Homo sapiens: one gene and its partners. The protein of the gene in region 1 interacts with the protein of each later gene in a biochemical or structural test. Each region holds a gene or a part of one and is shown in the gene's direction. Other genes may lie near its edges.

Region 1 (3,745 bases):
ACGCCAGGGGCGGGGCTCAGAGGGCCTTTGTCTGGCGGGGTCTCTGCCCCTCCCTCCCGTTGCCATGGTTTCTGTGTGTGCCGAGTCTCTGCAGGCTGGGGGCTTCCCAGGGACGGGCTGGTGGGTGGGACACCTTCCCCAGTCGCCCCTGGCTGAGGCTGCTTTTCTGAAACAAAACGCTCCCCAGTGCTGCCCAGCCCCCACTTCCTTCCACAGTGTCTCCGGCTGCCGGGCGCCCCCTGGTGGTGGCGGGGCATGGGTCCCTAGGACTGCAGGGGACGTGGGGGTGCACGGGATCTGAGAACCACAGGCTGAGCTGGAGATGTGGCACCTTCCTGGGATAAGAGAAGGAGGTGGTGTCCGGGCTGCCTTTGTGGTGGGCTCAGGGCTACCCCCACCTGCCCCACCATATCCCACTGGGATAGGCTGGGGAGTTGTGGCAGTGTGGGCGGGCCTGGTGTTGTGGGTTTGAGCTGGGCCGCTGCCCAAGTCTACCCTGTGGTCCCAGCCGCTGCTGCTTCTGAGAATCTCTGCCCTCGGGCCTGCCACGTCAGCTGGCTGCTCTTCCTGGCCCCACGTGTTCCCACGGAGCCCACCAGTATGGGGGTTCTCTCCAGGGAGGTGTGCCTGGCTTTCTGGGTGTGTGCAGCCAGTGAGCAATGTCAGCAGTGAGGCTCCTGGGCAGGAAGGAGGCCCCAGCTGTGTAGGAGTGCCGGGTTATACTGAAGGGAAGTGACGACACAGCGGAAAGCCAACAGAGGAGCCAGTAGCTCTGACTCCTGTCCCAGGTTATGCTGAGTCCCAGCAGGGAACCACCACAGCTCTGAATCAGCCTGTTAGCCGCTGTCCATTGCTCTTCATCTGCTCTTTATCTGAAAATCTTCAGAAGCTTTCCTTCAAATGAGATGACCACAGCAGTCTTCTCTGCAGGTTGCAGGAAATGAGAGGTTTGGGGAAATCTGTACTCTTTCAAAGGGTAGATAAATAGTGATAACTTTTACCTGAATGCTCACATGTGCCCCACACTGTGAGAAGAGCTTTGCATTTAATCCTTACCCATCTCTCAGAAGGAGACAGCGTTGTCCCATTTCACAGATGAGGTGCCAGAGAAAGGGCAGGAAAGGAGCTGAAGCTCTTGAGGATCTCAGGAAGGATCAGAGTGGACATCAGGGCTGTGGCAAGTCTGGACCTCCTTCTGGGAGAGGATCTGAAAATGGGAGGCAGGCTGGCTGGCTGCTTGAGGCTTGACAGCTCTGCCCAGGGGAAACTGAAGCCAGAAAGGATAGTAGCAAGTCCCAGCCTCCCAGCAGATCAAAGCCTATTAAGGAGTTAGAGGGTCCAAGATGAACAGATGCTGTGACTTGAATGCTGGGGCCTGGACTAAGCATCAAGTGACAAGACCTGTGGGCCTGTCTCTCCTGCTGCAGGGGCCCTGCTGGTCTTGTTCACGCAGGTGGAGTGGTACTGTCTCCCTTCTCTCATCGGTTCCCTCCTCTGGGGCTCAGCACTCCCAAAGTGGAAGCAGATGTTCTAGTGCAGAGCAGCTGCCACCACCCAGCACATCACTATGATTACTGCCTACCTGCTGTGGGCCCTAACTGCGCCACAGGGCAAAGGCTGCAGAGGTTTCTTCCTTGGTGGGAAGAGGTGTGACTCAGTGGGAATGCCAAGGCCACCCCAGGGAACCTCTGCAGGCCTCTCTGGTCTTACCCAGCTGGGGACAGAGCACTTGGTGGGGCCCTCTGCGGGCAGGAGGGGCTGATTCATGCCACCTTCTATTGCCTCAGTTCCCCTACCCAGCATCTTTGCAGAAATCTGGACTCAGGCTGGACGCGGTGGCTCACGCCTGTAATCCCAGCACTTTGGGAGGCCAAAGCAGGTGGATCACTTGAGGTCAGGAGTTCGAGACCAGCCTGGCCAACATGGTGAAACCCTGTCTCTACTAAAAATACAAAAATTAGCCGGGCGTGGTGGCACATGCCTGTAGTCCCAGCTACTGGGGAGGCTGAGGCAGGAGAATTGCTTGAACCGGGAGGCAGAGGTTGAACCGGGAGGCAAAGGTTGCAGTGAGCCAAGATCATGCTATTGCACTCCAGCCTGAGCAACAGAGCGAGACTGTGTTTCAAAAAAAAAATCTGGACTCAGCCACCCCTCTGAGAGGCAGGTGCGAGGGGAGCTGGGTGTGTGCAAAACTCACAGATAAGCCTCTTGCCAGCTTATCTGGTAGGGGGCATCCCTCAGGTCCTGATGGAAAGAGGACCCAGCCAGAGATGGGGAGAGTGAAGCTACTACCCCACAGCTGCCAGGGCACTTAGCCTGTGGGCTGCCCGAGAGCTCTTCACCCCACCCATTCCACCCAGATGCCATCCTGGGGCTCCACCCACCTCTGCTCCTGTCCCCCTTCTCTGCTGGAGCTGCTCCTGGGCTGTGCCCCTGCCTCTGTCCCGTTGTTCCCCCTGCTTCCTGCCTGGCTGCCAGCACCACACCCTTGTCCTGCCACTCACTACTTCCCGCCTGAGTCACAGCTGCTGGAAAGACAAAGAGACCAGCCTGAGTCTAGGGATAGGGGCTCCATGACCTTGATTTGCTTACCTGTCAAGTGGAACTCTTTTTTCAGTGACCCCTGCTTGGGATAGAGAATGTTCTCTTAACATTTAAGAGGCCTTAGGAGGGGAAAATGAAACTTGAAGGGGACAGGGAAGTGGGCCCTCCCTGGCTGGGGCAGGGAGCAGATATCCTGGCTCCTAGTGTGACTGGCTCTGTGCTGCCTACCTCATGTCTACCAGGTCTAGCTGCTGCTAGGAAAATCAGATGCAAAGCAAGTTTGCACCCTCGTCCCTGGGCAGGGTCACGAAGCGGCCCACATCACCTACTAAGAGTGGGCAAAAGGCCAGACCCCCTCTTCACTCTCAGTGGCCAGATAGGGAAACTGATGCCTCAAGTGGGCAGGAGTCCCGAAGTCACACAAGATGGGGAAGCTTTCACCCTAGACCTCAGGTCCCCCATGCCCTGGGTAGCTTCCCTGCTGAGTCTGAGCTCGCCTGGCTCGGGACTGCATGGGGACCCATGACTTCGCATCCTTGGCCTCTGCTCCTGCAGTTCCCCCCATCCTGGCTGTGACTGGCTCCTGGTTCTTCCTCCTGCTCTGGAGGAGCCAGTGGGGAAGACAGTCAGGTAGCCACTGCTGCCCTCCCTGCCCCAGTGGGTGCTTTGAGCCCCAGGGGGATGGGCCTTAAGTGTTCAGGCATCGCTGTGAGGCTTTCCTGGGACCTTTCCCCATGTCCTCATTGGCAGGTGGAGGAGTGTTGGTATGCAGATCCTGGCTGCCCCTTTGCCATGCACAGCCCAATGGGGAGGGAGTGGTGCTGGTATATATCCCGGTACACACCCCAGTGAAGATACTGGGCCCGGCCCCTGTAGTGCCCAGGGGCTAAAGCAATAGAGGGGATTGCTGCCCCAGCCACAGCGCCCCAGCCTTCCCAGGGCCTGCACATTTGTATGTCCACAAGATTGTGCAACCATCACTGCTATCTAATTCCAGAACATAATCACCACCCTCAAAAATAAACTTCATACCCAACTAGCTGTCACTCCCCATCTCCCCAGATCCCCTCCCCTCATCCTGGAAAGCAGGCCTGGGACAGTCAGAAGCTCAGTGATTGCAGGCGCCTGATGGCATTTGTGAGGAGGGCTCAGGCCTTTCCCCTCAGGGTGGTCTCTGGCGTAGGGGGCTGAAGGTGGGCAG
Region 2 (3,745 bases), on another chromosome or scaffold:
ACCCAAACCCAGACCCAGGACCTAGTCACAGCTCCAACCTACACTTCCTATTAATCTTAAAACAAAGCAAAACAAAACAAAAAGATATCAGCATTGTAGCCTCCAATCTGAGCCCATTTCCCTTCTCTGGCTACCATACCTCCTTCTCCTATATGATACCATTCACTACTTTGTTCAATTATCCAGTCTAGACCTGCATCTTGAGGCCACACCCAGCCTTCTCACTCCCCACACCCCTCTTTCCTCTCTCACTGCTCCTTCCTGGTCTCTTCTCATCTGGCCCCACCTCTAAGGAGTCCTCCTGCCTTCTGGGTTGCCCTGGAAAACAGACTATCCCCCCTCCTAGTGAAGGGAGTGGGTAGGGGTTTCAGCCCCACCCTCAGGAAGATGCGTCTTCCCTGTCCTCTGCTCTGTGGTACTTCCTCTCTGGCTGATTTAGCAAACAGCACCTAGACCTGGGGCCAGGCCTTTGGCAGTGGGACAGATCCAGGGATAGGCTACACCACCCTGCCCTGACCCTGGGATTGGCATCAGCTTCCAACCAGTTCCTGCCAAAGCTTGTAAGTAAGTTTCCTGGGAGCGGCCGTGGTTGTGGTGGTGGTGGGACAGTGTGCAGCCATGAAAGAAGGTGCAAAGGAATCTCCAAAGAAAGCCTGACCAGCGTAAAAAGTTGGGAGGCTTTGTCCTTGTCACTTGTCCACTAAACTCCTCCCCTCCCTGTTATTCCTGGTTGACCCTGGGCATCTCTGGGGACAGTAGGCAGGTGATTGGGAAAGTTAATGGGATTGAGGGGCTGAGGGCCTGGCAGGGGGCAAAAAGACTGGCCTTTCAAGGGGTGCAGCATTGGTAGGAACTCTGTTTGGTTCTGGGCTTTAGGGTCTCCTAAGGGGAGGAGACTGAAAAGGTCTGGAAATGCTGCTGCTGCTGTGGTCACTGTATATTTTGCAATTGGGTCTGTGGACAGGAAGGGGCCGCATGACCCAGTTAGGAAACTAGTCTTTGTACTCAACCAGATCCCTTTAAGTTGTCAGTCTGCAGCGATGGGGGCAGTATATTTCAGGGGGACCTCTGATGCTGCTGACCCTGGAGATAGACTAGAGTTCTCAGCCTAGGTGTGTCCATGGCGTCAGGAAACCCTTGGTCCTCTACTCTCATGCGTGTGTCCGCCCTCACTCTCCAGGTCCTCCCGACGGCCATGAACACTACATCTTCTGCAGCACCCCCCTCACTAGGTGTAGAGTTCATCTCTCTGCTGGCTATCATCCTGCTGTCAGTGGCGCTGGCTGTGGGGCTTCCCGGCAACAGCTTTGTGGTGTGGAGTATCCTGAAAAGGATGCAGAAGCGCTCTGTCACTGCCCTGATGGTGCTGAACCTGGCCCTGGCCGACCTGGCCGTATTGCTCACTGCTCCCTTTTTCCTTCACTTCCTGGCCCAAGGCACCTGGAGTTTTGGACTGGCTGGTTGCCGCCTGTGTCACTATGTCTGCGGAGTCAGCATGTACGCCAGCGTCCTGCTTATCACGGCCATGAGTCTAGACCGCTCACTGGCGGTGGCCCGCCCCTTTGTGTCCCAGAAGCTACGCACCAAGGCGATGGCCCGGCGGGTGCTGGCAGGCATCTGGGTGTTGTCCTTTCTGCTGGCCACACCCGTCCTCGCGTACCGCACAGTAGTGCCCTGGAAAACGAACATGAGCCTGTGCTTCCCGCGGTACCCCAGCGAAGGGCACCGGGCCTTCCATCTAATCTTCGAGGCTGTCACGGGCTTCCTGCTGCCCTTCCTGGCTGTGGTGGCCAGCTACTCGGACATAGGGCGTCGGCTACAGGCCCGGCGCTTCCGCCGCAGCCGCCGCACCGGCCGCCTGGTGGTGCTCATCATCCTGACCTTCGCCGCCTTCTGGCTGCCCTACCACGTGGTGAACCTGGCTGAGGCGGGCCGCGCGCTGGCCGGCCAGGCCGCCGGGTTAGGGCTCGTGGGGAAGCGGCTGAGCCTGGCCCGCAACGTGCTCATCGCACTCGCCTTCCTGAGCAGCAGCGTGAACCCCGTGCTGTACGCGTGCGCCGGCGGCGGCCTGCTGCGCTCGGCGGGCGTGGGCTTCGTCGCCAAGCTGCTGGAGGGCACGGGCTCCGAGGCGTCCAGCACGCGCCGCGGGGGCAGCCTGGGCCAGACCGCTAGGAGCGGCCCCGCCGCTCTGGAGCCCGGCCCTTCCGAGAGCCTCACTGCCTCCAGCCCTCTCAAGTTAAACGAACTGAACTAGGCCTGGTGGAAGGAGGCGCACTTTCCTCCTGGCAGAATGCTAGCTCTGAGCCAGTTCAGTACCTGGAGGAGGAGCAGGGGCGTGGAGGGCGTGGAGGGCGTGGGAGCGTGGGAGGCGGGAGTGGAGTGGAAGAAGAGGGAGAGGTGGAGCAAAGTGAGGGCCGAGTGAGAGCGTGCTCCAGCCTGGCTCCCACAGGCAGCTTTAACCATTAAAACTGAAGTCTGAAATTTGGTCAACCTTGTGAGTGGGGTACATGTGCTGTGGGTATCGGGGTGCTCGTGGGCGCCCTGGTGGGGCCCCTCTCGGTAGTTGAGAGTCACGTCCTTTAGTTCCCCATGATTTACAATTTTGGAAGGGACACAAAGAAACATAGACTTCCCCCATCCCAGATGATTCCGAGTACATAGTCTGCAGATAATACTTAGCAAAACGCAGTCTACAGACTCCTAAAGCAGCTTGTCTAGGAAGACCACCCATGTGGGCTTATCACTCCAGGTTCTGTGACCCGGGACCTTCTGAGAAAACAGCACTGCTGTGAAATATCTTCCTTGAAGCCTGTGATAAGTCTCCTTGTTAGAATGACTCCAACTTCCTGCCAATAATCTTTGTCCTCTCCATAGGAGATGTTCTAGGGGATGCCTTCCTTCCCTCCATTTCACAAAGAGGCCAGACTTGAGGACTAAGTCATTAGATCTTATCCCTTAGAATTTTGCATATCAGCATCTGCTAACCTCCACAACACACCCTGGCACAGGGTGGGGCTGAGGGCCCCAGGAAACAAAGATTCCCAAAAGTGAGAGGGATGAGTCATTATTTCCTAGAGATGACTGTTGTTTTAGAGAACCTTGGTCCAACTCTGTTCTGACAAGGTTTTAGGAAGATGGCAACAACAGTGGCAGCAGTGTACTTTTTGGATCTTTCTCATAAAAAAACAAAAGAGCAAGTAAGAGAGGGAAACCAAATATCCACATGCAACATCCGCAACAAATCTAGTATGTCAAGGTTTGACATACTCCCATGGACCCCAAAGTATGAGCCAGTGAGAATGAGTCATCAATATCTCAAGACCCATATACCAGCATCTGTGCAGAAGGATGCAGAAGGAAGCAAAGGGATGTTGGATGGACCTAAGAAGAGGAGATCCCCAAGCTGTCTACAGATCCTTACTGGAAGGTATGGTGCACCAATTTGAGAACAGCAGCTGAAACTGGGAGGGACCTAACGGAGTATTTCCCAGTCCTCTCGCCCATTCTGTATGGTGAGCACATAATAGGTACTTATTTAGTGTTTGTCGAATTAATAAAGTTCAAATGACATTTCCCTGGAGATTCTTCCGGTATTTTTGAGTAGGGGGCAGGAAAGGGCAAATTTTTGTTTTGAGTCATGTGGCTAAATTCTTTATGCTTCCAAGGTGTACAAAATACTATAATCAAGTTGGCAGAGAGGCTGAGGGAGTTCTCTTCCTGAGCTTGTGAAAAAAATCACTCCCTT
Region 3 (3,745 bases), on another chromosome or scaffold:
ACATAGTGTCAAGCTCCTGTGGTCCCAGCTACTGGGGTGTAGGGGAGGGGTGAGATCGGAGGATCACTTGGCCCTGGGAGGTTGAGGCTGCTGTGCAGTGATCTCCAGCCTGGGTGACAGAGGGAGGTCCTGTCTCTCTCTCTATATATATAAAATTTCCTTTGTGGCTTTCACAGTATCCATACTTTAAAAGAATTTATAATTAAGAAGGAATTAATACCTACCTCTGAAACAGTACAGCCAACCAATTCCATTGTTATTTACAAGAACCTGATATTAAAGATGGTTGTAACGATAATAGGTATCAAGTATGGAGCAGTTTCTATGTGTCAGGCCCTATGTCAACCACTTAACAACCTTACCTCACAGAAGCATCATAGCAACCCTTATTAGAAGAGGCTTTATTATGTTTTACAGGTGGGGAAACTAAGACTAAAGAAGATAACTCATTCAAGGTCAATCAGCAAGTAAGTAGCAGAATTGGAACTCAAACCCAGGTCTAGTTTGATGATAAAGCTGTTCCTTTAAGCAATTTGCCATAACATGCACCTAATGGGAAATGTTGCTTGGATCACTGGTTATGGCCATCATTCACGGAGATACTGAACCCGGAGTTTTCTTTAACATAGCCTTTACCCTGTAGAAACATTTAAACTTCATTTCAGAAGAGAAATATCTATTTGAAAAATAATCTAAGTAAATTCATCAGATGCTTTACCCCAGAGAGACTCTGGTCTTGGTATTTTGGTTTTTGTTGTTGTTTGAGACGGAGTCTCGCTCTGTCGCCGAGGCTGGAGTGCAGTGGCGCGATCTCGGCTCACTGCAACCTCCGCCTCCTGGGTTCAAGCAATTCTCCTGCCTCAGCCTCCCGAATAGCTGGGATTGCAGGCGCCCACCACCAGGCACGGCTAATTTTTGTATTTTTAGTAGAGACGGGGTTTCACCATTTTGACCAGGCTGGTCTCCAACTCAGGTGATCCCCCCGCCTCGGCCTCCCAAAGTTGCTGGTATTACAGATGTGAACCACCGCGCCCGGCCGGTATTTTGTGAAGAACAAACTATAAGGTGACTACTATTTTGGGGTCACCTTGACATGGAGGAGAGGTGAATGGAAATAAAACTTATTCTTCCCAGTGTCTTTAGAATGTAGGCGCTGAAACTGAGTGAAACTGAGTAAAACTGCCACCCAATTTTCCTGGGAACCAGCGATTCTGTAGTCAACAGAAGTTTGCTTTTCCAACAGCTGGAAACGCCAGGGTTGGGCACAGCCTCAAGAACTGAGGCTGCCTTGTTCAGACTTTCACACGGTCCCTCTGTTCCTTCCACAGAGGCCTCTTTTTCTTCTATATCCCGCATCTGCCGCTTGGGACACTCATTCTGTAGCGCAGCACCAAGTCTTCCAAAAAGGCGGCGCTGGTTTTGCGCTCCTTTTTTAAAGGGATCTAGGCCAGCCTCTATCTGAACTCTGTACGATGTTTTTTGTTTGTTTGTTTTGTTTTGTTTTTGAGATGGAATTTCGCTCTTGTTGCCCAGGCTGGAGTGCAATGGTGCGATCTCCACTCACGGCAACCTCCGCCTCCCGGATTCAAGCGATTCTCCTGCCTCAGCCTCCTGAGTAGCTGGGATTAAAGGCATGCGCCACCACTCCCAGCTAATTTTGTATTTTTAGTAGAGACGGGGTTTCTCCATGTTGGTCAGGCTGGTCTCGAACTCCCGACCTCAGGTGATCCGCCCGCCTCGGCCTCCCAAAGTGCTGGGATTATAGCCGTCCGTCACAGCGCCCGGCCAACTCTAGACAATATTTATTGCTCTACTTTTTAGTGTCTGAAGAAGAAAGAAGAGGACAGGAAAGAAACTTCAGTCTGAGGGTTGAGGACACGTCCCGGAGCAGAGGAGGACCAAGCTCCCAAGCCCCCTGTCACCTTGACACGCAGACGGTTCCCCAGGACTGCGAAGAGGGGGGCAACCAGCGCCCCGCCCCGCCCCGCTGCGCCGCCCGCCATTGGCCGGTCCGAAAGACGCGGGGCGTTGTCGGTTTGAATGAGAGCGCCTGGAGCCGGGGCGCAGGCGCAGAGGAGGGCGGTGTTGAGACCGGCGGAGCGGCGGGACCCCTAGGTGGCGGAGGGACGCTCCGGGAAAGCGAGGGGCGCTACGAGCTCTGGCCCACGTGACCTGCCGGGGGCGGGAGCAGGGGGCGCGCCGGCCTCCTGCGGTGCCCCTGCCTTGGGGAGGGGCCGTGACCACCCGTCTGTCGCCCGAGGCGGCCGCCGCTGCACCTTCACCGCGTACCCGGGACCCGCCCGCCCGCGGGAGGTGAGCGCTTCCGCGACGCGGGTTCTGAGGCGTTTGAGGGGCTCTCGGAGGGAGGTGACAGGGAGGGGTGCGTGTGCGTGCGTGTGGGGCTTCTGTGTCCAGAGGTCTGGGGGTGACGTCCTTTGTTTTGGGCAGGAGGCGGGCTGGGGGCTTGCGGGACCTGTGGGCGCTGCGGGGACGCGGCGTCGATGCTCAAGAAACCAGAAACTCGGCTTGAGGAGTTGCTGCTTTTTTGTCGGAAGGTCTTCAAATGAGAGTAAAGCGTTAAGAGCCTCACTCCTGAGTCTTTTTTTTTTTTTAAGATAAAAACTATACTAGAGTCCAGCGACTTCTTACCACTCTGAATGTGAGTAACAAATTGTGAATCAAAGCCCGAATCCCCGTGGAATTCATTCCGAGGCTGATTGCAATCACTTGGAGTCGGGCGCGTCCTACCTAAACCAGGCAGTTTATGGCAAATACCTGCCTTGACCGTGCTTAAATTAGTGAACTTTTGGGCACCAACTGGTCGATTTACCATAGAAATTGGTAGTTGCTGCAAAAAGAGTAAGTAAACATAAAACGTTAAGAAAACTCTTTCCTGAAATCTATAGAATACCTTCGAATAAAAAAAAATCTGTAATTTCCTTGTTTTAATAGTAACCAGTTAGAGCATTTGAACTAGTAGCATTTGAACTCTGTTAAAGAAAACGAGTAAGGATGGAAATTTTATTGGCCTTAATGCATAATTTAACCACACCGTAGAATTAAACGAAGTAGGTTCTTGGCTTTCCTTTCTATCGGGTTTGCATTGGAGCGTTCGTGGGGTGTGTTGGAAGTCAGCAGGACCAACAGAGCTGAGTTTTCAAGCTGCCACTTTAGAAGGGTGTACCGAAGATTTCTGGCCTGATAATAGCCGGTGTGATTGCTTCTGATAAATACCACTTTTGATTGGGTTCTCACTATTCAGGAGCAGCTTTAGTTGATTGTTTAGAAGTGAATAAACAACATTAAAAAGGGTAGATCACTGTTGGTTGACATGGTGTGTGTAAGGAGAGGGGGGCCTCAGGGATTAGGGGTGGTCTCACACCTACTTCTCTTTACAACTACCACGGAGTCGTTTTCGCAAGCTATTTCCCAGGCTATTACTTATAATTTAAGTATTGGAGCGGTTTCAAAGTAAAAAGTTGTGTGATGTTGTTGTAGAGGCATGTCTCCAAAATCCTCTCTGGCCAGATAAGCAGTTTAATTGTATTTTCTTACATTCTTAAATCAGATATTCGGTGTTACAAACATATTTTAATATAGATCTGAGACTTGCTTACTAGACTAATTAAAACAGTGATAAGATATAGTAGTTTTAAAAATGACCTTTTCATAAACATAAAATATTTCTAAGATCTATCTTTAGAAATTTGTAATTAGTTCTCTGGAATTTTAAAATGGAAAATCT

The links.
Region 2: the proteins of GNAI2 (region 1) and LTB4R form a complex in vitro, tested with the Homo sapiens proteins (one study listed by BioGRID).
Region 3: the proteins of GNAI2 (region 1) and GPSM2 form a complex in vitro, tested with the Homo sapiens proteins (one study listed by BioGRID).

What each region holds. Positions count from the first base shown.
Region 1 is NC_000003.12:50,246,129-50,249,873, forward strand, and holds part of GNAI2 (guanine nucleotide-binding protein G(i) subunit alpha-2), read left to right. Parts: intron 1-781; exon of another isoform or gene 782-940; coding exon of another isoform or gene 941-947; intron 948-3,745. UniProt on the Homo sapiens protein: Guanine nucleotide-binding proteins (G proteins) are involved as modulators or transducers in various transmembrane signaling systems.
Region 2 is NC_000014.9:24,314,457-24,318,201, forward strand, and holds the end of LTB4R (leukotriene B4 receptor 1), read left to right. Parts: exon of another isoform or gene 1-564; intron 565-1,180; 5' UTR 1,181-1,195; coding exon 1,196-2,254; 3' UTR 2,255-3,580; downstream 3,581-3,745. UniProt on the Homo sapiens protein: Receptor for extracellular ATP > UTP and ADP. The activity of this receptor is mediated by G proteins which activate a phosphatidylinositol-calcium second messenger system.
Region 3 is NC_000001.11:108,874,916-108,878,660, forward strand, and holds the start of GPSM2 (G-protein-signaling modulator 2), read left to right. Parts: upstream 1-2,069; 5' UTR 2,070-2,313; intron 2,314-2,615; exon of another isoform or gene 2,616-2,859; intron 2,860-3,745. UniProt on the Homo sapiens protein: Plays an important role in mitotic spindle pole organization via its interaction with NUMA1. Required for cortical dynein-dynactin complex recruitment during metaphase. Plays a role in metaphase spindle orientation.